3 separate regions of the Homo sapiens genome follow, and regions 2 and 3 are each linked to region 1. Evidence: fine-mapped expression QTL. A gene starts in region 1. Each other region holds a variant in brackets. All regions are shown on one strand. Distances are between the middles of the regions.

What was found.
Region 2: its variant is fine-mapped to the expression of MCEMP1 in whole blood (INTERVAL, PIP above 0.99).
Region 3: its variant is fine-mapped to the expression of MCEMP1 in whole blood (TOPMed, PIP above 0.99).

What each region holds. Positions count from the first base shown.
Region 1 is chr19:7,672,680-7,680,830 of GRCh38, reverse strand. It overlaps MCEMP1 (mast cell expressed membrane protein 1), which reads right to left and starts at 3,741. Exons shown (of 7, transcript NM_174918.3): 1 at 3,656-3,741; 2 at 3,105-3,194; 3 at 2,590-2,727; 4 at 2,431-2,481; 5 at 2,227-2,340; 6 at 1,848-1,907; 7 at 1,002-1,733. The coding sequence starts at 3,710. The coding sequence ends at 1,717. RefSeq lists a silencer at 1-293 and an enhancer at 2,705-2,774.
Region 2 is chr19:7,560,863-7,569,038 of GRCh38, reverse strand. It overlaps PNPLA6 (patatin like domain 6, lysophospholipase), which reads right to left. Exons shown (of 32, transcript NM_001166114.2): 30 at 7,929-8,025; 31 at 7,722-7,831; 32 at 7,275-7,551. The coding sequence ends at 7,477. Among named protein-coding and RNA genes, the nearest start is that of PNPLA6, 29 kb to the right of the region's middle. The variant CAAAAT/T (reference allele first, on the strand shown) is at 4,421.
Region 3 is chr19:7,652,590-7,660,765 of GRCh38, reverse strand. No RefSeq gene overlaps it. Among named protein-coding and RNA genes, the nearest start is that of RETN, 12 kb to the left of the region's middle. RefSeq lists an enhancer at 2,495-2,614. The variant C/T (reference allele first, on the strand shown) is at 4,970.

The DNA of each region.
Region 1 (8,151 bases):
AAGGCGCTGCGTGCGCAGGCGCTCGACGGGCCAGGCGTGTGGGCGGGGCGCGCGCAGCGGTGCCTGAGAGCGGCCGCAGGGGGGCGCGCGAGTCCGCGGAGCCGGACCCAGGGACGTGGCCCACGGCCGTGATGGCTGCTCCGCGCGTGGCCAGGGTCTCGCTGGCTCTGGGTGGCCCACGCTGGAGGGGACGCTTGCAGGCCTAGTCACCTGCTCAGGGCGCACGTATGACAATGGGCCAATGTATACCCTTGCACATGGACACACCTGTTGGCTTTTCCAGGCACTCCTATGTCCTTGGGGATGGGTTCAATTGTCTCAAGTGCATCCATGTGGCCCGCGGTGGCTCCCGCCTGTAACCCCAGCATTTTCGGAGGCGGAGGTGGGAGAATCACTTGAGGCCAGGAGTTTGAGACCAGCCTGGACAACATAGCTAGACTCCCACTTCTTTAAAAAAAATTAGCCAGGTGTGGTGGTGTGAACCTGTAATCCCATCTACTCGGGAGGCGGAGGCAAGAGGATCGCCTGAGCCCAGGAGGTCGAGGCTGCAATGAGTCATGATCGTACCACTGCCCTCCAGCCTGGGTGATAGAGCGAGACCCTGTCTCAAAAAAACAAAAACAAACAACAACAACAACAAATCAAGTGCATGCATGAGCGGTGGACATAGTACCTTAGGGTCATGTACACTCATGGATACATGCTCAATGGCATAGATACACTCACGGGCACAATTACACACGTGGGTACACGCTTAGGGCTTGTATATATCCGTGGTCCCAGGTACACTCAGGGAGATGTTGTATGCTCAGGGGCACCCACTCTGGGACACAGGGAAGACACAGGGAATGAGTTACTCATTCACAGATGCACAGGTACTCACGCAGGGCACTCAGTCTCGCCCACCCTGGTGCCCCGGGGTCATTGTCACGTGCAGACTCTCCCTCTCCCCAGGTCCCAAAACCCCTCCCCTTGCCCCAGTAACAGGTCCCATAGCGACGCTGTTTTCCCTTGACTTTATTTATCTTCATAAGTCACAAAATGTGAGTGCAGAGATAAATGTCTGTGTGCATGTGCCCTGAGCACACAGGGTGGCATAACTCGGCACACTCATAATGACACAGCCGTTCACCCAGCCACAGATAGTGACAGGGCACACATGGCGACACCCACATGTACGGAGATAAATCTCCCCCACCATGACATGGGTAGACAGAAAACACGCCGCAGTATACTCTAGTATGTTTACACAAACAGGGAGACAGGCCCGTGCAATGCATGTCACCAACACCCACACTCAGAGTGACATCTGCTGGAGGTGCTCAGACACAGCCACCCACCGTGACATGCCGAGACTCACATATGTCACATGACACAGGCATGCATGCCACATTCACTGTGACTCTCAGTCCTATTCATTCATCACCTTTCTGGGAGATACACTGAAATGTCCACCCTTTGCAAAATGCACACACACGCGCACGCACACACGCACATACACGAACACACGCGCACACACGCACACACACGCACGCAGGTGTACACACACACGAGCAACTCCGAGACACTCATTCACCATGACTCGAGGTTTTTCTATACGTGGGACGAGGGGCAGGTTCACACTAGGCTGGGGGGGGGGGGTCATTTCCCGTCTTCGTTGGCAGGTGCAGCCCCATCTTCCAAGTTGTGGCTTTGGCTGCCACAATGTCCTCTCATTTATTGAGGTGAGGACTCTGGGGATGGGGAGAGACCCACAGTGAGGCAGATCCCGCCCCTGGGAGAGGAGCTGGGGCTAAATCTGAAGCCCCACCCACCCTCCTCCACCTCCTGTCGGGGCGCCAACTTACGTGGCATTTTCTGCAGCACCTCCAAGATTTTCTGTACCTTTGTGTCAATGTTTTTTATGCCTAGGGGGCGGGGAGGGTTGGGTGGGAACAGATAAGTCAAGCTGCGGTGGAGCCTCAAACAAAGCCCCCACCTTCCTTGGAAGCACCCCCCCTGCCCCACACCCACCCTGGGGTACAGCAGAGCCCATGGATTTGGGGTTCCCAGGAGCCTTTCAATACCCACAGAGCAACCCAGATGGTAACACCCATCGCCCCTCCACAACTTGAGCTTTGGGAGGGTAGGACCCCGGCTTTCTCCTCCCCTGAATCCCCTGCCCCCAGCTCAGCTCCGGGCATTGGTGACAAATAACCCCCATAGAAGGCGAGACTACACAGGCACCTGCTAATGTCGTCTCTAATCTATCAATCTTGCTCCTGACCATGGTGATGCTCTGCTGAACGGAATCCCAGCCTCTCTTCTGTCTCTCTTCGCATGCTTGTACGGAGTTTGAGACTGAGGGCATGAAACAGGGGTGTCTGTGCATCCATCCCTCTCCAGACCCCCACCATGACCCCACGGGTCTCCCTCAGACCCTCCGCTCACCATTCCAAAGCTCCCTTTTAAAGCCCAGCAGCTCCTTGGACATCTCAGCATCTGTTCAGGAGGGGCAGGAAAATCCTTGAAGCACCCAGGGAGAGAGAGAGAGAAGGACAAGGGAGAAAGTCTAGGCCCCCCAGCACCCTCCTCCCAAGAAGTACTCACTCTTCACCATGATGAAGGCTGACAGGATGATGCAGAGGACAAAGGCCAGGGCCAGGAGGATGTACAGGCTCAGGATGGCTCTGTACAACCAGCAGGGGACCTGGGTGGAGTCTGAGGGCGGCCTGCACTGGGCTGGGACTGGAGCAAAGAGGCAGCAAAGTGACCTTGAGGGGCCAGCACCACCACTCAAACCATCCTCACTGTCTCTAACACCATGGACACCTCGCTCCTCTCAAAACCATCAGCAGCTGTGGTCATGCAGCTTGTCATCATCGTCAACAACACTGCCACCACCAGCCACCCTCAGCGATCTAACACCGTCACCATCACAGACCCCCTCTCCAGCATTCCCCAACATTGTCATCATCAACAGACCTCATTAGCACGTCAACAGCTGTCACCTCTTCCTTCCCCATCGCTTCCTCCCTTCCACGCAGCCCCGGGGGCCCTGCAGTTGCCCGCCCACCTGCCCCTTCCCAAGGTGATGGGATGTGAGCAGGTGGGTGTCTGCTCACCTTGGCTCGTGGGTCGTGAATGACCACCCTTTGCATGGTCCTGATTTTTGAAGGCCAAGGTGATATTCTCATAGTCTGGGTCATGGGCACCTGGGAGGGGTTGGAGATCTGCTCAGAGCTCTGTGGTGTGGAGAGTGGATCCGGGATCTTGTTTTACCCAACCCTTTGCACTCAATAAATTGTAGGGGGTGAAAGATAAGGAGTGAGAAGCTAAAATCTGCTTTTTGGTTAAGTGGAGCGGGTGTGTGAGAGTTTGAGTGATCACACCACACACACATCCACACACACATCCACACATCTTGGAGGGGAAGGAGCCCCCGGCCCCCACCTTTGACCCCTTACCTCTCCCATCTGAACTCTCCTTCTTTTTTTATTTTTATTTTTTACAGACAGAGTCTCCCTATGTTGCCCAGGCCAGTCTCCACCTCCAGGGCTCACGCAATCCTCCCGCCTCAGCCTCCCAAAGTGCTAGGATTACAGACATGAGCAAAAGCCCCCGGCCCCCCAATCTCTCCTTCTTAACCCCTCCCTTCCACCTCGAGTTCCCTAACCTTGATTCTTGGCTGAGACCCCCTGTTTCTTGTCCCTGAAGGCTGGTGCTTGCATCTTGACTTCCTGGTGCTTGTAGATTTCCTCCACTTCCATGGTCCCCAGCCCGCAAATTTGTCCATACACGTCCCCGCCCACCGGAAGGTGTGGGCAGATGAGGAAATCTGGAGGTGGGGGGAAGAAAGAGGGGGAGCAGCCTCCTCTTTTCAGGGATCCACGACTCTCGCACCCTGGGGCACCCTCATTCCTGCCCCGATCAAGAGGCTCTTGGGAGCCAAGAGGTCTCAGGAAGGACCAAGAAGAAAAACCTCTAGACCGGGAGATGGAATTCGACACTCGGAAATGTTACAGGAAGCTGTGGTCTCTGTGTGTGTCTGTGTCTACCTGGATGGACCTCACCCTCCTACCTCCTCTCCATTTCAAAAGAGAAGCTGTGACACCTCAGTGTCCCAACTTTTCGCGTAAGAGCAACCAGGCTTGGAGACAGGACCCCTGGGTCCCCCCACACCTTCCTCCCTCCAGCCTCAGCTCCACCCCTCAGCTCCACCCCCAAGAAGTTCTTCTACTTCTACAAGTCCCCGTGGAGGAAAAGCACAGATGTGAGGCAACGGGAACTAACCACTGGAACGCCACACCCACATCTGGGACTGAGGACAGACCCACATCCTTCCCTCCCTCCCCAAATCCCCTGCTTTTATACAACCCTGGAGGAGGCTGGGTGCGGTGGCTCACGCCTGTAATCCCAGCACTCTGGGAGGCTGAGGTGGGTGGATCATCTGAGGTCAGGAGTTTGAAACCAGCCTGGCTAACATGGTGAAACCCCGTCTCTACTAAAAATACAAAAATTAGCTGGGCGTGGTGGCGAGCGCCTGTAATCCTAGCTACTCAGGAGGCTGAGGCAGGAGAATCGCTTAAACCTGGGAGGCGGAGGCTGCAGTGAGCGGAGATCACACCATTGCACTCCAGAATGGGTGACAAGAGGGAAACTCTGTCTCAAAAAAGAACCCTGGAGGAACAGTTTCCTCTGCACCTGGAAACTCCAGGTTTCTCATTCTCATCCATCCATCTGCTTATCTACCCAGATACTCTCTCTCACACATGTACACACACAGGTCTGCACACGGACACACATCACAAACTCATTTGCATACTATTTGCATTGTGACACTCAGAAAAATAGACACAAGCATGCGTTCACATGCCCGCACTCTGTCTAGAAGGTGTCTTAGTTCACTTTGTGTTTATCTGATCTTGAAAACTGGGGTTACAAAAGGCACAAAGTAGCTGGGTATGGTGGCTCGCTCTGTAGTCCCAGCTACCCAGGAGGCTGAGGTAGGAGGATCATTTGAGGCCAGGAGTTTGAGACCAGCGTGAGCAACATAGCAAGACCCTGTCTCTTTAAATGTTTTTTAATAATTTTTTTTTGAGACAGGGTTTCACTCTGTTGCCCAGGCCGGGGTGCAGCAGCGTGATCATGGCTCACTGCAGCTTTGACCTCCCTGGCTCAAGTAATCCTTCGTCCTCGGCTTCCCGAGTAGCTGAAATTACAGGTGGGCACGACTTCACCTGGCTAATTTTTCTCCTTTTTTGAGATGGAGTTTTGTGCTTGTCACCCAGGCTGGAGTGCAATGACGCTATCTCAGCTCACTGCAACCTCCGCATCCCAGGTTCAAGTCATTCTCCTGCCTCAGCCTCCCAAGTAGCTGGGATTACAGGCATGCACCACCACCCCCGGCTAATTTTGTATTTTTAGTAGAGACGGGGTTTCCCCATGTTGGTCAGGCTGGTCTCGAACTCCTGACTTCACGTGATCTACCCGCCTTGGCCTCCCAAAGTGCTGGGATTACAAGCATCAGCCACCGTGGCCCAGTCTAATTTTTCTTATTTTTTGTAGAGATGAGGGTCTCAATATGCCGTCCAGGCTGGTCTTGATCTCCTGGGTTCAACTGATCCTCCAGCCTTGGTCTCCCAAAGTGCTGGGATTACAGGCATACATTTTTATTTTTATTTTTTTCTGGCCAGGTGTGGTGGCTCACGCCTGTAATCACAGCACTTTGGGAGTCTGAGGCGGGCGGATCACCTGAGGTCAGGAGTTAGAGACACCAGCCTGACCAATATGATAAAACCCTGTCTCTACTAAAAATGCAAAAATTAACTGGGCGTGGTGGCAGGCGCCTGTAATCTCAGCCACTCGGGAGGCTGAGACAGGAGAATCACTTGAACCCGGGAGGTGGAGGTTGCAGTGAGCCGAGATCGCGCCATTGCACTCCAGCCTGGGCAACAAGAGCAAAACTCCGTCAAAAAAAAAAAAAAAAAAAGAAAAAAGAAGAAAGAAGAAAGAAGGAAGGAAGGAAGAAGAAAAGAAGAAAAAACAAGTATAAGACTGTCTTATGTGCAGAAAGTGATGATGTTTTGGTTAAAAATATGTGGTTAAATTTCAGACAACTTGAATGTTGAGAAATGAGCGTCGAGATCTGGTGAGGATAAAGTTCTGTTTCCTAAAATATTGCCAAATCCTGTGTCTCCAAGAAAGATCAATTTGATAATGACTTCATGCCAGCTGCTCCATTTGGTCTTAGAAAGAAGTCAGTTACTGAGCTATAGGACCGCCTTCTAATGGAGCAGACGGACCAATTGGATGTGGGCTCTGCCTTGATGGACAGGCACAGGGGGTGGAGCCACAGCGTTGCACATTTCCCGGGCTTGGGTGGGGCTGAGACGCGGCTCCAGGCTCTGGACTTCCTTTGAGAAAAAGGTCACGCTAAACCAGAGGCCCACAAGCAATCATGTCATGTGGGAAACATCTGCAAAGCTGCCTGACCAGCACCCGTCCCTTTCATAGGGTAACATTCTCAATTTTCTTTTAAGAAAGAAAATGTGTGCTAGATCCAGCAAACCATAAGCTAGGGATTGGTTTACAGTGGACAAATGATCCAGACCCAGCCAACCAGAGTCTAAGATTGGGCAGAGAGGCGGGCATTTGAGCAAGATCCAGCCAATGAAACGCTGGTCTGGGATTTTTATTGGTTTAACCACGGGGGAAAAAGCATTCTCTTTTTTTTCCAGCCCTCACTAGGGCTGCCACAATGGGAGGATGTAATGGGAGCTGTGACAGGGAAGAATTTACTTGAGAGCAAAGGCAGTGCTGAGAAAATCAGACCCGAGAGGAAGTCTGGGTCCTGGAGACATCATTTGAGACCCTGGTTCCAAGCCATACCTGAACCTGTTGTTCTAACCCTGGGCTTGTCAGTTACACAAACAAGAAACTTCCTTTTAGTTTTGCCCAAGCTAGTTTGAAGTGGGGTCTGTTGTACTTGCAAGCAGAAGAATCTTGCCTTGGCTGGTCTCTGTGGCCCACGCCTGTAATCCCAGCACTTTGGAAGGCCGAGGCAGGTGAATCACTTAAGGTCAGGAATTTGAGACCAGCCTGGCCAAAATGGCGAAATCCCCGTGTCTACTAAAAATACAAAAATTAGCCAGGAGTGGTGGTGGGCGCCTGCAATCCCAACTACTCAGGAGGCTGAAGCAGGAGAATCACTTGAACCTGGAGGTGGAGGTTGCAGTGAGCTGAGATCGTGCCACTGCACTCCAGCCTGGACAACAGAGTGAGACTCCATCTCAAAAAGGAAGAAGAAGAAGGAGGAGGAGGAGAAGGATGAGGAGGAGGAAGGAGGGAGGGAGGAGGGAGGAGGGAGGAGGATATCTTGCCTACCACAGGGGATCTAGGCATTAGCTATTGAGGAAATTGAGGCTCTAATAGGGGGTTTGCCTGTCCACATCACCTGGGCAGATATGACCTCCAAGTCTGCACTCTGGGGCAGGAGAATGTCTATGTTGGAATTGAGGAACCTGAAGAGAGCCCTCTTAGGTTTCAGATACAGGACTATTGGATGGGGGTGGAGACAAATAGTTCTGGGGACAATGGAGCATCCCCGCCCCCAACACACACACACAGCAGTAAGGGGCAGGGACACACACAAGGCACTAGACTCACCCTCTCTGGCCCTGGCCATGCTTCTAACTCAGTGGTCCTGCCCTACCCCCATGACCACTGTGGAGTCAGGAGAGAGGGTCTGGGAAGGGAATCCCTGGGCTGGAGTCTGGGTGGGGTCCCTGGCACCAGAAGTGGTTGTAATCTCTGCTCATGGCCACCAGCATCAGACAGGGGGCTGGGACCATCACAGGGGGTGGGTGGCAGTGGGAGGAGAGTCCAAAACATCCTGCAAACCAGAACCTCACTCTATCATCTGTTGTCCAGGTGTGACATTTGAGTCTGGGATCCCTTTCAAGACTAGGTGCTAGGAATTCTGAAGTCTGTGGTGGGAAATCAGGGACTGGATGGCAAGACTCCTGGGTCAGGCTTCCTGTAGAACTGGACCCCGAATCACCTGAATTTGTGCCCCAGGGAGCTGAGGCGGGGGATGCTGAGGCTTTTGCCCACTAGAACAGGGGTCCCCAGCCACCGGGCATTGGGAACGGGGCCTCACAGCAGGAGGTG
Region 2 (8,176 bases), 110 kb after region 1:
TGGAGTCTCACTCTGTTGCCCAGGCTGGAGTGCAGTGGTGTGATCTCAGATCACTGCAACCTCCACCTCCTGGGTTCAAGTGATTCTCCTGCCTCAGCCTCCCGAGTAGCTGGGATTACAGGCGACCACCACCACGCCCGGCTAAATTTTTTGTATTTTTAGTAGATACGGGGTTTCATCTTCTTGTCCAGGCTGGTCTCGAACTCCTGACCTCAAGTGATCCACCTGCCTCAGCCTCCCAAAGTGCTGGGATTACAGGCATGAGCCACTGCACCTGGCTGAAGCACACAGGTAATGATTTTATAATGAGAACAGTACTCCCTCCCCTCCCCTCCTTTCCAATAAATGTTAATTCTAAACGACAAAAAAAAAAAAAAAAAAAGCAGTAAGTCAGCCCACAGCTACTCGGTGCTTAACCCTCCCCTAGTCAGCAAAGCTCCACCCCGGAGCCAGACGCCTGAACGCCATAGCAGGACCGCCCCCTGGTGGCAGAAAAGTAAGAATCTGGTCCAGGTAGGTGTGTGCGTCAGTTTCCTCCTGCAAGGAGCTCTGTTTTGTTTTATCTTAGTTTTATTTTATTATTAATTTTTTTGAGACGGTGTCCTGCTCTGTCGCCCAGGCTGGAGCGCAGTGGCACGATCTTAGCTCACTGCAACCTCTGCCTCCTGGGTTCGAGCGATTCTCCTGCCTCAGCCTCCTGAGTAGCTGGGATTACAGGCGTGCGTCTCCACGCCCAGCTAATTTTTGTATTTTTAGTAAAGACGGGGTTTCACCATGTTGGCCAGGCTGGTCTCGAACTCCTGACCTCAGGTGATCCCACCCGTCTTGGCCTCTCGAAGTGCTGGGATTACAGGCGTGAGCCACCGTGCCTGGCCTATTTTATTTTATTAATGTATTATTCTTTATTAGAGACGGGGGGGGGGGTCTCACTATGTTACCCAGGCTGGTTTCGAACTCCTGACGTCAAGCGATCCTCCCACTTTGGCCCCCCAAAGTGCTGGGATTACAGGTGTGAGCCACCACGCCCAGCCTGTTTCCTTTTATTTAGATCACAGGTCGGGCATGGTGGCTCACGCCTGTAATCCCAGCAGTTTGGGAGGCCAAAGTGGGAAGATCGTCTGAGGTCGGGAGTTCAAGACCAGCCTCACCAACATGTAGAAACCCTGTCTCTACTAAAAATACAAAATTAGCCAAGTGTGGCGGCACATGCCTGCAATCCCTGCTACTCGGGAGGCTGAGGCAGGAGAATCGCTTTAACTCCAGAGGCAGAGGTTGCGGTGAGCTGAGACGGAGGTTGTGGTGAGCCAAGATCATGCCATTGCACTCAAGCCTGGGCAACAAGAACAAAACTCCATCTCAAAAAAATAAAAATAAAGATAAATTACAAAGCAACCCACTGGGACTAAAATTAGGTAGAATACACAGGTGACAAATTTGAGAATGGGGGAAGGGAAGCCCAAGGTCAGCTGGCTAGCAATGGGCAGAACCTGCCAATCTGTGCAAATGTAGGACCCTGATTTTTTTTTTCCTTTCTGGCAATAAAGAAGGAAAGGAAAATTCCCTGTTTTTTGCTTTTTTTGTTATTATTTTTGTTTCAGAGATAGGGTCTTGCTCTGTCACCCAGGCTGGAGTGTAGTGGTGTGATAATAGATCACTGCAGCCTCAAACTCCTGGGCTCAAGCAATCCTCCTGCCTTAGCCTCCCAAAGTGCTGGGATTACAGGTGTGAGCCGCCATGCCCAGCCTCTTATTTTTTTTAATTTGTTTATTTATTTTTTGAGATAGAGGCTTATTCTGTCACCCAGGCTGGAGCGTAGTGGCATGATCTCGGCTCATTGTAATCTCTGCCTCCCAGGTTCAAGCAATTCTCGTGCCTCAGCCTCGCAAGAAGCTGGGATTACAGGCACGCACCACCACATCCAGCTATTTTGTATTTTTAGTAGAGAAGGGGTTTCACCATGTTGGCCAGGCTGGTCTCCAACTCCTGGCATCAAGTGACCTACCTGCCTTGGCCTCCCAAAGTACTGAGATTACAGGCATGAGCCACTGTGCCTGGCCTAAACTTATTATTAATATTATTTTTATAAAAGGTTTTACTCTGTTGCCCAGGCTGGAGTGCAGTGGTGCAATTATAGCTCACTGCAGCCTCTAACTCCTGGGCTCAAGCGATCTTCTAACTTCAGCTTCCCAAGTAGCTGGGACTACAGAAGCCCACCCTCACACTCAGCTACTTTTAATATTTTTCATAGAGTCAGAGTCTCACTATGTCACCCAGGCTGGTCTTGAACCCCTGGCCTCAAGCGATCCTCCTGCTTTGGCCTCCCAAAGTGTTGGGATTACAAGTATGAGCCACTGCACTTGGCCTGGGTGGCCAAAAGATGTCCTACAGCCTGACCAGGTTGGTTCTTCCCTGTCCAACCTCTACATGGCCATTTCCAGACACTGGGCAACAAACACACCAAGAGGCTGGGTGCGGTGGCTCATGCCTGTAATCCCAGCATTTTGGGAGGCCAAGGCAGGCAGATTTCTTGAGGTCAGGAGTTCAAGATCAGCTTGGCCAACATGGCAAAACCCCATCTCTACTAAGAATTAAAAAGAAAATTAGCTGGGCATGGTGGCATGCACCTATAATCTCAGCTATTCAGGAAGCTGAGGTGGGAGAATCACTTGAGCCCAGGAGGTGGAGGTTGCGCTAAGGCGAGATCACACAACTGCACTCCAGCCTGGGTGACAGATAGAGACTCTGTCAAAGAAAGAAAGAAAAAGAGGAGAGGGAGAGGGAGAGGGGGAGAGAGAGACAGAGAGACAGACAGAGAGAGACAGAGAGAGACAGAGAGAGAGAGACCAAGAAAACACTCTTGAGAATGTGACTTTATCAGTCTCTTGGGTCCACACCTCGTGGCCAGCTCCTGTGGATTGCAGGACAGGGCCCCTGACCCTGAACCCAGGTCCTCACTGTAACCTCAAAATTTCTTGGCGCTAGCTGAGTCTCAAGCTCTGGAACCAGAGAGGGGTAGCCTAGAGAGTCCAGGAAGGTCCAGTTGAGGCTCAGTTCCAACTCTGTTAGTCAATAGTTTGTTTTTTGTTTGTTTTTATTTTAATTTTTTGAGACAGGGTCTCGCCCTATTGCCCAGGCTGGAGTGCAGTGGCATGATCATGGCTCACTGCAGCCTAGACCTCCCTTGGCTCAAGTGATCCTCCTACCTCAGCCTCCCTAGGATCTGGGATTTCGGGCTCACACCACCATGCCTGGCTAATTTTTTGTATTTCTGATAGAGATGGGGTTTTGCCATGTTGCCCAGGCTGATGTCGAACTACTGAGCTCAAGCAATCCACTCGCCTCGGCCTCTCAAAGTGCTTGGATTACAGGCGTGAGCTACTGCAGCCCAGCCTGTTGATCATTAGTGATGATCACCAAATATTTCCAATGCTCTCTCTTCTGGGCACATGGTAGGGCTGTTTTTTCCTGGCCACTTACAGTTGGGTAGGACCATGTGACTTTTTCTAGCCAATGAGCAGTGAGATAAAAGTATTGCATCATTTCTGGACCAGAGTATTTAATGATGGGTATGAGGCCTTCCAGAGATGTCTTTCCTCAGTCACAGTGACCCAAAACATTCCAGATAGTGACTACTTTTGTTTTAGAGACAGTCTCACTCTGTCGCCCAGGCTGGAGTGCAGTGGTGAAATCATAGCTCACTGCAGCCTCGAATTCTTGGGCTCAAGCGATTCTCCTGCTTCGACCTCGCAAATAGCCGAGACTACAGGTGCATGCCACTATGCTCAGCTGATTTTAAAAAGTTTTTTAGAGATGAGGTCTTGCTATGTTTCCCAGGCTGGTCTCAAACTCCTGGGCTCAAGCAATCCTCCTGCCTCAGCCTCCCAAGTAGCTGGGACTATAGGCATGAGCCACTGCACCCAGCTCAGAAATTACTTTTGTATTGTTTTTGCCCCCCAAGACTTTGGTGTTATTTGTTACAGCGGCATAACCTGACTTGTCCTGCCTGATCCATTACACCATCCACATCATGGCAGCTGAGTCTAGCCAAGGGCTTCTATGTTAATTTGCTAGGATTCACTGTCACAAAGTTCCACAGATGGGGTGACTTCAGCAACAAAAACGTATTGTCGGCTGGGTGAGGTGGCTCACGCCTGTAATCCCAGCACTCTGGGAGGCTGAGGCAGTTGGATTGCTTGAGCCCAGGTTCAAGACCAGCCTGGGCAATATGGCAAAACCTTGTCTCCATCAAAAATACAAAAATTAAGCCAGGTGTGGTGGCATGTGCCTGTGGTCCCAACTACCAGGGAGGATGAGGTGGGAGGATGGTTTAAGCCTGGGCGTGGTTGCAGTGAGCTGAGATGGCGCCACTGCACTCCAGGGTGGGCAACAGAGCCAGACCCTATCTCAAAATAAAACAAAA[CAAAAT/T]CAGAGAGAAAGAGAGAGAGTGGGAGTTATCTCAGGGATCTTTGCTTCGTCTTTGGAGCTTGATGTCATTCGACATTTACTGAGCACCTACCATGAGCCAGGTGCTGTTCTATGCAAGGTTCTTCCAGTGATGGAACTTATATTTAAGTGTGTCTTGCAGAGACAGATGAGAAACAAGTAAGCAAGTGAGGCCTGATGTGATGGCTCGTGCCTGTAATCCCAGCACTTTGGATGGCCAAGGCAGAAGGATCAATTGAACCCTGGAATTTGAGAACAGCCTGGACAACCTAGCGAGACCCTTGTCTCTACCAAAATTTTTTTTTAAAAATTATCCAGGTGTGGTGGTGCTTGCCTGTAGTCCCAGCTACTTGGCAGGCTGAGGTGGGAGCATCACTTGAGCCTGGGAGGTTGAAGCTGCAGTGAGCTATGACTTCACTACTGCACTCCAGCCTAGGCAACAGAGTGAGATCCTGTCTCTAAAAAAAAAAAAGTTAATTAAAAACTTTAGGCCGGGTGTGGTGGCTCACACCTGTAATCCCAGCACTTTGGGAGGCTGAGGCAGGCAGATTACCTGAGGTCAGGAGTTAGAGACCAGCCTGGCCAACATGGTGAAACCCCGTCTCTATTAAAAATACAAAAATTAGCCAGGTGTGGTGGCGGTTGCCTGTAATCTCAGCTACTTGGGAGGCTGAGGCAGGAGAATAGCTTGAACCCGGGAGGCAGAGGTTGCAGTGAGCCGAGATGACACCACTGCACTCCAGCCTGGGCAACAGAGTGAAACTCTGTCTCAAAAACAAACAAACAAACAAACAAAACAACAACACCAACAACACTTTATACCTGTAATCCCATCACTTTGGGAGGCCAAGACAGGTAGATCGCTTGAGCCCAGAAGTTTGAGACCAGCCTGGACAATATGGTGAGACCCCCATATCTACAAAAAAAAAAAAAAAAAAACTAGCTGCATGTGGTGACTCGCGCCTGTAGTCCCAGTTACTCGGGAGGTTGAGGTGGGAGGATCACTTGAGCTCAGGAGGTCAAAGCTGCAGTAAGCCGTGATCACATCACCGCACTCCAGCCTGGGTGACAGAGTGGGATCTTGTCTCAAAATAATAATAATAATAATAATAATAATAATAATAATAATAATAATAATAATAGTAATAATAAACAATGAAAACAATAAAAACAAGTGAAGCAACTGTGACTAATGAAGTGCTTTAAAGGCAAGGAGACAGGGGCCAACGGGAACAGGGAAGTTACTGTACACAGTCCGAAGAGGTGACAATTGAGGACAGGCTTAATCAGCTACACAGGGAGTAAAAAGCCCAATTCTGTGCTTTGAGCCAGGAATCGATGGAGAATTTGAGGAATAGAATGAAGGCTGGTACAACTGGAGCCTTGTGAGCCAGGATGGAAGGGGAGCCAGTTAAGATACAGACACCAGTAGGTGCCAAACTATGGACTGAACTTTCCCCTAAATGTCCCCCTCCACCCTCAAAACTCAGAGATCTGGAGGGCGCAGGGATATCGGCGGGGGTGGGGGGGCTTGGAGGGAAAGACACAGAGGGGGCGTCAGTAGCACCTCGGACAGCACCATCCCTGTCCATGGTGCTGACAGCTCGAGGCACTGACAGTCGGTGGGAATTTAAAATGGTGCAGCCGCTATGGAAAAGTTTGGCGTTTCTTCAATTCAACACAGAATCTCCATGTAACCCAACAATTCCACTCCCGGGCATCTAGCCAAGGAAGTTGAAAGCAGGGATCCAGATAGTTGTACACCTGTGTTCACAGCAGCATGACTCCCCATAGCCAAAAGGTGGAAGCAACTCAAGCGTCCAACAGATGAACCAATAAATACCATGTGGTCCATCTACACAATGGGATATTATTCACTCATAAAAAAGATAAACCGTTCTGGCCGGTCAAGGAGGCTCATGCCTGTAATCCCAACACTTTGGGAGGCCAAGGCGGGCAGATCACTTCAGGTCAGGAGTTTGAGACCAGCCTGGGCAACGTGATGAAATGCCGTCTCTACTAAAAATACAAAAATTAAGGCCAGGTGTGGTGGCACATGCCTGTATTCCCAGCACTTTGGAAGGCTGAGGCAGGTGGATGGCTTGAGGCCAGGAGTTTGAGACCAGACTGGCCAACATGGTGAAACCCCTTCTCTACAAAAAATACAAAAATTAGCCAGGCATGGTGGTGCTCGCCTGTGGCCCCAGCTACTTGGAAGGCTGAGGCATGAGAATCACTTGAATCCAAGAGCTGGAGGCTGCAATAAGCTGAGATCGCATCACTGCACTCCAGCCTAGGTGACAGAGAGAGACACTGTCTCAAAAATTAAAACAAAAAACAAAACAAAACCAAAAAACCCCCCCACAAAATTTAGCTGGGTGTGGTGGCGGGCGCCTGTAATCCCAGCTACTCAGGAGGCTGAGGCAGGAGAATCGCTTGAACCCGGGAGATGGAGGTCGCAGTGAGCAGAGATCATGCCACTGCACTCCAGCCTCCAGCCTGGGTGACAGAGTGAGACTCCATCTCAAAAAAAAAAACACAAAAAACAAAAAACACACAGAAAGAAATTGAGGGGTGCCATATCGGGCCCCCAAGAGCACCTGTGAGCCCGGGAGGGTGGCACGGAATGTCTGGCCCTGTGGTCCGGAGTCAGCACTGGCTTCTGAGGAGCCAGAGAAGGGGCAGAGTGGGGACAAGCACCTAGTGGGGCTCCGTGTGGATTCTAGAAAGGCATTCCCTGTGGGGGGCAAGCACCAGGTGGTGTCAGACCCCAGCCCCAGCCATCCTGAGCACAGAAGGTGGGTCCCCAGTCCGAAAACGACAGGAAGCCATTTCCAAGAGGCGAGTTTATTGGGGGAGGGGCTGGTCAAGTCATCAGTGCAACACTGCATCCCCGCTCAGGGCAGGTCAGTCCAGTGTGTGGGCCGCGGGGGTCACAGGCATAGCAGCAGGAGGGGGAGTGAGCTACCCCCACGGGGCCACCCCCAGCCCAGTCCAGGGGTGGGAGGGAGGGGGTGACCCCTGTCGAGGTCCTCAGGCATCTGTGGCTGAGCCGGGCGGCTCCTGGGGCAGACAGCGTCGTTGCCGGAGAATCGACTTCTCCTCCTCCTGCGAGGGAAGGTCACACACACGTCACCCAGCACGGGACACTGATGCGTCACATGTCAGCCAGCACCCAGCACACACAGGATCTCAAATACGCCCCCGGCTCCCCTGCCTGACACTGTACTCATGACCCTCTGGGGGATGTGAGGGGACCCTGGGCCACCCACTCTCACCATCTCGGAGGCAGTGCTGGGGCTTGCGCCCTCGGGGGACCCCCCTTCATCCCTCGAGCAGTCGGGTCCGGCGTCCTCCTCATACTCTGTCAGACAATCTGACTCCTCTCCTGGAATCGGGGAGCAGGGCACAGGTGAGGGGATTGGGGCTGGCCTGCCATCTCCAGCCACTCCCCTCCCTCTTGGGGGGTCCCCTGGGCCCCTCACCGTCAGCACAGCCATCAGAGACATAGCTCGTGGGGGGCTCAATCCGGGACACAATCTCTGCCAAGTCAGTGAAGCCAGAGCTTGGGAAGGCAAGCACCTGTGGGGTGACACTGGTGAGGCTCTTAGGGGGGGCCCACAGAGTCTTGGGGCCCCTGGGGGGCCCAGTGGTGCATTGGGGGCTCAGAGGAGATCCTAGGGTGGGAACTCTCTGAAGTCAGCAGAGGTCTGAGAGCTCAGCAAAACCCAGG
Region 3 (8,176 bases), 20 kb after region 1:
TTTGAAAAATCCATTTTGTTGATGTGTAATTTACATACAGTAGAATGTGCCTATCTTATGTGTTTGGTTTCATGCATTGTTTTTCTTTTTCAACTTTTTAAATTTTTTTTTTTTTTTGAGACAGGGTCTCACTCTGTTGCCCAGGTTGGCGTGCAGTGGCACAATCTCGGCTCACTGCAACCTTCGCCTCTCGGGTTCAAGCAATTCTCCTGCCTCAGCCTCCTGAGTAGGTGGGACCACAGGCACGCGCCACTACACCCAGCTAATTTTTGTATTTTTAGTAGAGACAGGGTTTCTCCATGTTGGCCAGGTTGGTCTCGAACTCTTGACCTCAAGTGATCCACCCACTTCGGCCTCCCAAAGTGCTGGGACCACAGGCACACACCACCACGCCCAACTAATTTTTGTATTTTTCATAGAGATGGGGTTTCACCATGTTGCCCAGGCTGGTCTCAAACTCCTGGCCTCAAGTGATCTGCCTGCCTTGGCCTCCCAAAGTGCTGGAATTACAGGCATAAGCCACCATGGCCAGCCCTCTTTATCAACTTTTATTTATTTTTTCATTTTTTTGAGACGGAGTCTCGCTCTGTTGCCCAAACTGGAGTGCAGCGGTGCGACCTCAGCTCACTGCAACCTCCGCCTCCCGGGTTCAAGCGATTCTCCTGCATCAGCCTCCCAAGTAGCTGGGATTACAGGTGCCCGCCACCACGCCCATCTAATTTTTGTATTTTTAGTGGAGACGGGGTTTCACCATGTTGCCCAGGCTGGTCTCGAACTCCTGGCCTCAAAGCGACCTGCCCGCCTTGGCCTCCCAAAGTGCTGGGATTACAGTTGTGAGCCGCCGCGCCCGGGACCCTCTTTATCAACTTTTATTTTAGATTCAGGGGATACCTGTGCCAGTCTCCTACCTGAGTATATTGCATGATGCTGAGGTTTGGGGTATGAGCGACTCTGTCACCCAGATGGTGAGCACAGCACTCAACAGTTAGATTTTCAACCCTCATGCCCCTTTTCCTCACCCCTCCCTGGCAATCCCCACTGTTCATTATTGCCACCTTTATGTCCATGAGTACCTGAAGTTTAGATCCCACTTATAAGTGAGAACAGGCAGTCTTTGGTCTGCTGTTACTGAGTTTGATGCATTTTGACAAATGTGTCTACCTGCCTGCTGCACGTTTTGGTTTTCCCAAGAATTATTTTCTAAAAATCAGTTTTTATTAAGGTGGCATTTATATACACTAAAATTCTGCACACGATCTTGTAACCATCACCACCAAATACGTATTTATTTATTTATTATTATTTTTTAGAGATGGCGTCTCACTCTGTCTCGATCTCCCACGCCGGGGTGCAGTGGTGCCATCAGAGCTCACTGCATCCTCCAACTCCTGGGCTCAAGCGATCCTCCTGCCTCAGCCTCCTGAGTAGCTAGGACTACAGGCACCCACCACCACCCACAGTTAATTGAAAAAATTGATTCTTCTTTGTAGAGACAGGGTCTCATATGTTGCCAGGATCCTTGGTCTTTGACCTCCCAAAGTGCAGAGATTACAGGCATGCACCACTAATGCCGGGCCAAATACTTGTAATTTAAATTATCGCTGGGCTGGGCACGGTGGCTCACGCCTGTAACCCAGCACTTTGGGAGGCCGAGGGGGGAAGTTCACCTGAGGTCAGGAGTTCCAGACCAGCCTGGCCAACATGCTGAAACCCTGTCTCAACTAAAAATACAAAAATCAGCCGGACATTGTGGCAGACGCCTGTAATCCCAGCTAATCGGGAGGCTAAGACAGGAGAATCGCTTGAACCCGGGAGGCAGAGGTTGCAGTGAGCCGAGATCGCACCATTGTGCTCCAACCTGGGCAACAAGAGCGAAACTCCATCTCAAAAAATAATAATAAAATAAATTATAGTTGGAAAAAAGGGGTTTCCTAAAGACCCAAGGGAAATGGCCTCTTTGTTCCTGAAGCCACAGAGAGGATTTTTCTGCTCCCCACAACTAGTTTTCCTTGTGAAAATTCATAATTGCTACCAGCTTGTTCTCCTCTCTGTCACTATACATCTGTCCTTGAAGCCTTATTTGAACAAAGAGTTCTGGTATCACTCGGATGCCTAGAAACTGTTGCCGTTCTGTGAAACCGACCACCAGAGGAAACCCATGCTTCTCATTGGCTGCCTTACTAAGATGGTGACTTGTTGCCCTGGTGACAAGTTGCAATGACAGGTGGCTCTGCCAAATCAGAACACAGTGATACTTGCTTCCCCTCCCGGGTGAAGGATGGAAAATAAAAGTAAAAGCCTTGGCGGCTGTCAGGCTTCTTTACCAAAGAGCTGGAGAGCACTCCTTGGCCCCATTTATGCAAACACTTCCCATCTACAGATGATCCAGCTTCGGAGTGGGAGTCTAAGCAGCTGCCAGGACCACCGCTTGGCAGAGGACAGGCTGGGGGCTCTGGCATGACCTGCTGGGGCCAGGCTGTGACTTGGAGCAAGAGGTAGCAAGAACCTCGAGGCAGTGAACATCAAAAGAGAGATTTCCGGGGCTAAACACCCTAGGTTTTTCCTTCCTCCTGAACCCTAACCCTAACCCTCTCGGCTCACTGCAACCTCCACCTCCCGAGTGCAAGCAATTCTCATGCCTCAGCCTCCCGAGTAGCTGGGATCACAGGCGTGCGCCACCACGCCCGGCTAACTTTGTATTTTTATTAGAGACGGGGGTTTCTCCACGTTGGTCAGGCTGGTGTCAAACTCTCGAACTCAGGTGATCTGCCCGCCTTGGCCTCCAAAAGTGCTGGGATTACAGGCGTGCGCCACCGTGCCCAGCTTATTTTTGTATTTTTAGTAGAGGTGGGGTTTCACCCTGTTGGCCAGGCTGGTCTTGAACTCCTGAACTCAAGTGATCTGCCTGCCTCAGCCTGCCAAAATGCTGGGGTTACAGGCGCCAGGCCAAGTATCTTATTTTAAAAGGTTACAAAGAATATAGATGTGGATAAAATAAAAGTTTCTTTGCATTACCACTTTCCTGCAAGAAATGAGGGGGAGGGGCTTATGAAACAACTCACACCCCCCCAATTGAGGAACTGTAGATGAAAGGGAAGGTGCTGACAGGCCCGTCTGGCCACGGTTTCCTGGAATAAAACTGAGCCACACACCTCCACAAATCCCCAGCCTCCGGCAAGTACCCCAGAAGTACTCACACTCCACCACCTTCTGTGATCGCAACAGCCCTACGCAACATTACAGAGGGCAAAACCCACGCTGGGGAAGGCGGGGCTACTGTCAAAAGGTCACCAGGGCCAGGCACAGTGGCTCACGCCTATAATCCCAGCTCCTTGGGAGACCAAGGCAGGAGGATCCGTTGAGCTCAAGAGTTTGAGTTCAGCCTGGGCAACACAGGAAAACCCCCGTCTTTACAAAAACTTTTTAAAAATTAGCTGGGTGTGGTGGCATGCCCGTGTAATCCCAGCCACTACTTAGGAGGCCGAAGGGGGAGGATCTATTGCTTCAGCCCGGGAGTTTGTGGCTGCAGTGAGCTATGATTGCACCACTGCACTCCAGCCTAAGTGACAGACAGAGACTCTTAAAAAAAAAAAAAAAAGGGCAGGGCACGGTGGCTTATGTCTGTAATCCTAGCACTTTGGGAGGCCGAGGCGGGCAGATCATCTGGCGTCAGGAGTTCGAGGCCAACCTGGCCAATATGGTGAAACCCTGTCTCTACCAAAAGTACAAAACTTAGCTGGGTGTGATGGTGGGCACCTGTAATCCCAGCTACTCGGGAGGCTGAGGTGGGAGAATCGCTTGAATCTGGGAGGTGGAGTTTGCAGTGAGCCAAGATTGCGCCACTGCACTCCAGCCTGGGTGACAGAATGAGACTCTGTCTCAAAAAAAAAAAAAAAAAGTGGGGCACCTATATTCCCAGCACTTTGGGAAGCTGAGGCAGGAGGATGGCTTGAGGCCAAAAATTCAAAACCCGGCCTGGGCAACATAGCAAGACCCCATCTCTATGAAAAAAAAAAAAAAAAAGTCACCAGGCCAGCTAGCCTAGATTTCAGAGCCAGAATTTGTCTGATGCCATTGTCTTTACTTTTTCTTTTTCTTTTTTTTTTTTTTGAGACAGAGTCTCACTCTGTCACCCAAGCTGCAGGGCAGTGGGACAATCTCAGCTCACTGCAACCTCTGCCTCCCAGGCTCAAGCGATTCTCCTGCCTCAGCCTCCTGAGTAGCTGGGATTACAGACATCCACCACCATTTCCAGCTAATTTTTGTATTTTTAGTAGAGGTGAGGTTTCACCTTTTTGGTCAGGCTGGTCTCCAACTCCCAAGCTCAGGTGATCTGCCCACCTCAGCCTCCCAAAGTGCTGGGATTACAGTTGCGAGCCACCACGCCTGGACTGCTCTTCATTCTTTTTTCAGAACTTTCCCAGCTGCCAACAGAGACAGAAACTGAATCATCTCAGAAGTGAATGAAGGAGGCTGAGGGCGGGTGGACTGCTTGATTAGGAGTTCGAGATTTGCCTAGGCAACATGGAAAAAGCCTGTCTCTGCTAAAAATACAAAAATTAGCCGGGCGTGGTGGCACATGCCTGTAATGCCAGCTGCTTGGGAGGCTGAGGCAGGAGAATCACTTGAACCCGGGAGGCAGAGGCTGCAGCGAGCCGAGATCGCGCCACTGCACTCCAGCCTAGGTAACAGGGCGAGACTCCGCCTCAAAAAAAAAAGAAGGGAATGAAGGACACCCAAAATGGAGCCTCTGTCTGCCAGGGCTTTGCTATCCTGGCCTGCCTATCCCAGCCCTGGACACCTCATCTCTGATCCCACCAGAGCGGAACCTTCCCATTCGCAGGGCCATTTCCTTACCCAGAAACCTTTTCACAATGTTCTTGGCAGCAGCTGTTGGTCAACTGTGTTTTAAGGTTTTTGAGCAACTTTACAGAAAATAAAAGGGAAGCTACCCTCAATGTCTGGGTCT[C/T]CCCCTGGGTGGCCTCTCTTTGTCACCTTACTCATTTCCACGAGATTTCCTTGCTTCGTTGAGTTACATCACCTCCTTTTCCTGTCTGGGTCCAGGACGCCTCCTCTGCAGGTCTCCAGCACTGATTCCTTTGTCCCCGATTTCTCTGCTAGGGTCGCTGGCTTCACCATCCCACCACCACTGCTGCTGGCCCAGCCCGCAGCTTTAATTTCTCTGGACCCTCACGTTTTTGTTATTTGTGTTTTTTTTGGAGATGAGGTCTTGCTCTGTCACCCAGGCTGGAGTGCAGTGGTGCAATCACAGCTCACTGTAGCCTCCACCTCCCAGACTCAAGTGATCTTCCTGCCTCAGCCTCCCAAGTAGCTGGGTGTGTGCCACCAGGTGCAGCTACATTTTTTGTAGAGGCAGGGGTCTTGCTATATTGCCCAGGCTGGTCTCAAACTCCCAGCTTTAGATGATCCTTTCACCTCGGCCTCCCAGAGTGCTGGGATTACCAGCATGAGCCACTGCACCCGTCCTCTCATGTATTTTTTATTAATCGATTTATCTATTTACTTATTTTGAGACAGAGTCTTGCTGTACCACCCAGGCTGGAGTGCAGTGGCATGATCTCGGCCCACTGCAACCTCCACTCCCTGGGTTCAAGTGATTCTCCTGCCTCAGCCTCCCGAGTAGCTGGGATTACAGGTGCCCGCCACCATGCCTGGCTAATTTTTGTATTTTTAGTAGTGACGAGGTTTCACCGTGTTGGCCAGGCTGGTCTCGAATTCCTGACCTCAGGTGATCCACCCAACTCGGCCTCCCAAAGTGCTGGGATTACAGGCGTGAGCCACCGCACTCGGCCTCCCTCATGTATTTTTAAGCGGAACAGGTTCAAGATCACAAATGTTTTCCTCTCACTCTTTCAATGAGTTTCTATTCTAGAATCTCCTGCACGCCACAGGAAGGAGAACTCTCACCCTGTAATGCACATAAATACATGAGATCACCATTGTTCTCACCCAGTAATCAGAATCGTTAGTGATAATTAGTAATAAATTTATTTTTACTATATCTAATAAATTAGATAGTAATTACTATGGCAGCCAATCGTTCCTGGGTGCTCCCTAGATGCTTCCAAGGGAGCCACACGTGACCCTCAGGGCTGTGCCCATTCCAGGCTCTTCTGCTGAGCTCATGTAACCGCTTGCCTCAAGGCATTCCACAAATAATACATAAGTCAATGTATCACGTTGTCACTTTCTGTACAAACCAGCTAGTTCCGGAGGGAAGCAGAAAGCCTTTTTCAGAAGAACCACAGCTAATTCCAGTAGCAGGAATGATAAAGTTGGACATAATCCTCAAGAGAGTAATGAATCAAAAATGGATGGCGGGCCAGGCACGGTGGCTGATGCCTGTAATCCCAGCACTTTAGGAGGATGAGGCAGGTGAATCATTTGAGGTCAGGAGTTCAAGACCAGCTTGGCCACCATGGTGAGACCCCGTCTCTACTAAAAATACAAAAATTAGCCTGGCATGGTGGCTCATGCTTGTAGTCCCAGCTTCTTGGGAGGCTGAGGCAGGAGAATTGATTGAACCCTGGAGGTGGAGATTGCAGTGAGCCAAGATTGCATCACTGCACTCCAGCCTGGGCAACAAGAGCGAAACTCTATCTCAAAAACAAACAAACAAACAATAACAACAACAAAATTGATGGCTGCTAATGACTTTTTTTCTTTTCTTTCCTTTTTTATTTTTATTTTTTATGAGACAGGGTCTCACTCTATCGCCCAAACTGGAGTGCAGTGCCGAGATCATAACTCAGTGCAGCCTCAACCTCTTGGACTCAAGTGATCTTCCCACCTCAGCCTCCCATGTAGCTGGGACTACAAGCAATTGCTGCCACATCTGGCTAATTATTTTATTTTGTTGTATTTTATTTATTTATTTTTTGAGACAGAGTCTTACTCTGTCACCCAGGCTGGAGTGCAATGGCATGATCTCAGCTCACTGCAACCTCCGCCTCCTGGATTCAAGTTATTCTCCTACCTCAGCTTCCTGAGTAGCTGGGATAACAGGTGTGCACCACCACGCCTGGTTAATTTTTGGTTTTTTGGTAGAGACGGGGTTTCATCATGTTGGCCAGGCTGGTCTTGAACTCCTGACCTCAAGTGATCCGCCCATCTCAGCCTCCCAAAGTGCTGGGATTACAGGTATGAGCCACCGTGCCCGGTCTTTATTTTATTTTTAGTAGAGACAGGGTTTTGCTATGTTGCCCAGGCTGGTCTCAAACTCCTGGGCCTAAGTGATCCTCCTGCCTTGGCCTCCCAAAGTGCTGGGAACTACAGGCGTGAGCCACTGGGCCCAGCTCCTGTTAACATCTTTATGTGGAGAGTTACTGGGGACCAGGGACATTCCCCAAACCCACCCATCAATCGTAGTGACATGACGTTATGGACCCCCTGATGTGATGTACCAGGAAGTACCCGGCCCTACCAGCATGATATTATTCTGGCTGCAACTGACCCTTATTCCAATAGAGCATGTGGTTCTAAGCCATTTATAGGGTAAACATTGGGGCAGGGATGGGGAGAGAGGAAGCAACCTGCCAAATCCAGAATGAGGATCATTCCTCGGTACCAGAAGAGAACCAGAAAGAAAGCACCCTAAGTGGGGATACCACAAGGAAGTAAAGCAGGGGCCTCTCCCAGCTGGGGAAGGGAAGGAGGAAGGAGTACAATAGCTTGCAAGGCACAGCATTGCGGATGATGGGAATAGCAGGTGCAAAGGTTCTGGGGCAGGGACAGTGTGGTGTGTTTGAAGAACAGCAGCCAGGTTCACCATGAGATGGGAAATGGACTTGGGGGAAGGGATCTCAAAGGATAATTTTTTTTTTTTTTTTGAGACAGGGTTTCGCTCTTGTTGCCCAGGCTGGAGTGCAGTGGCATGATGGCTCACTGCAACCTCTGCCTTCCGGTTTCAAGCGATTCTCCTGCCTCAGCCTCCCGAGTAGCTGGGATTACAGGCGCCCACCACCACGCCCGGCTAATTTTTGTATTTTTAGTAGAGACAGGGTTTCACCATGTTGGCTAGACTGGTCTTGAACTCCTGACCTCGTGATCCGCCCGCCTCGGCCTCCCAAAGTGCTGGGATTACAGACGTGAGCCACCGCGCCCGGCCCCCCAACTTTTTTTTTGTTTTTAACACAACTTCTCGCTTTCTCACCCA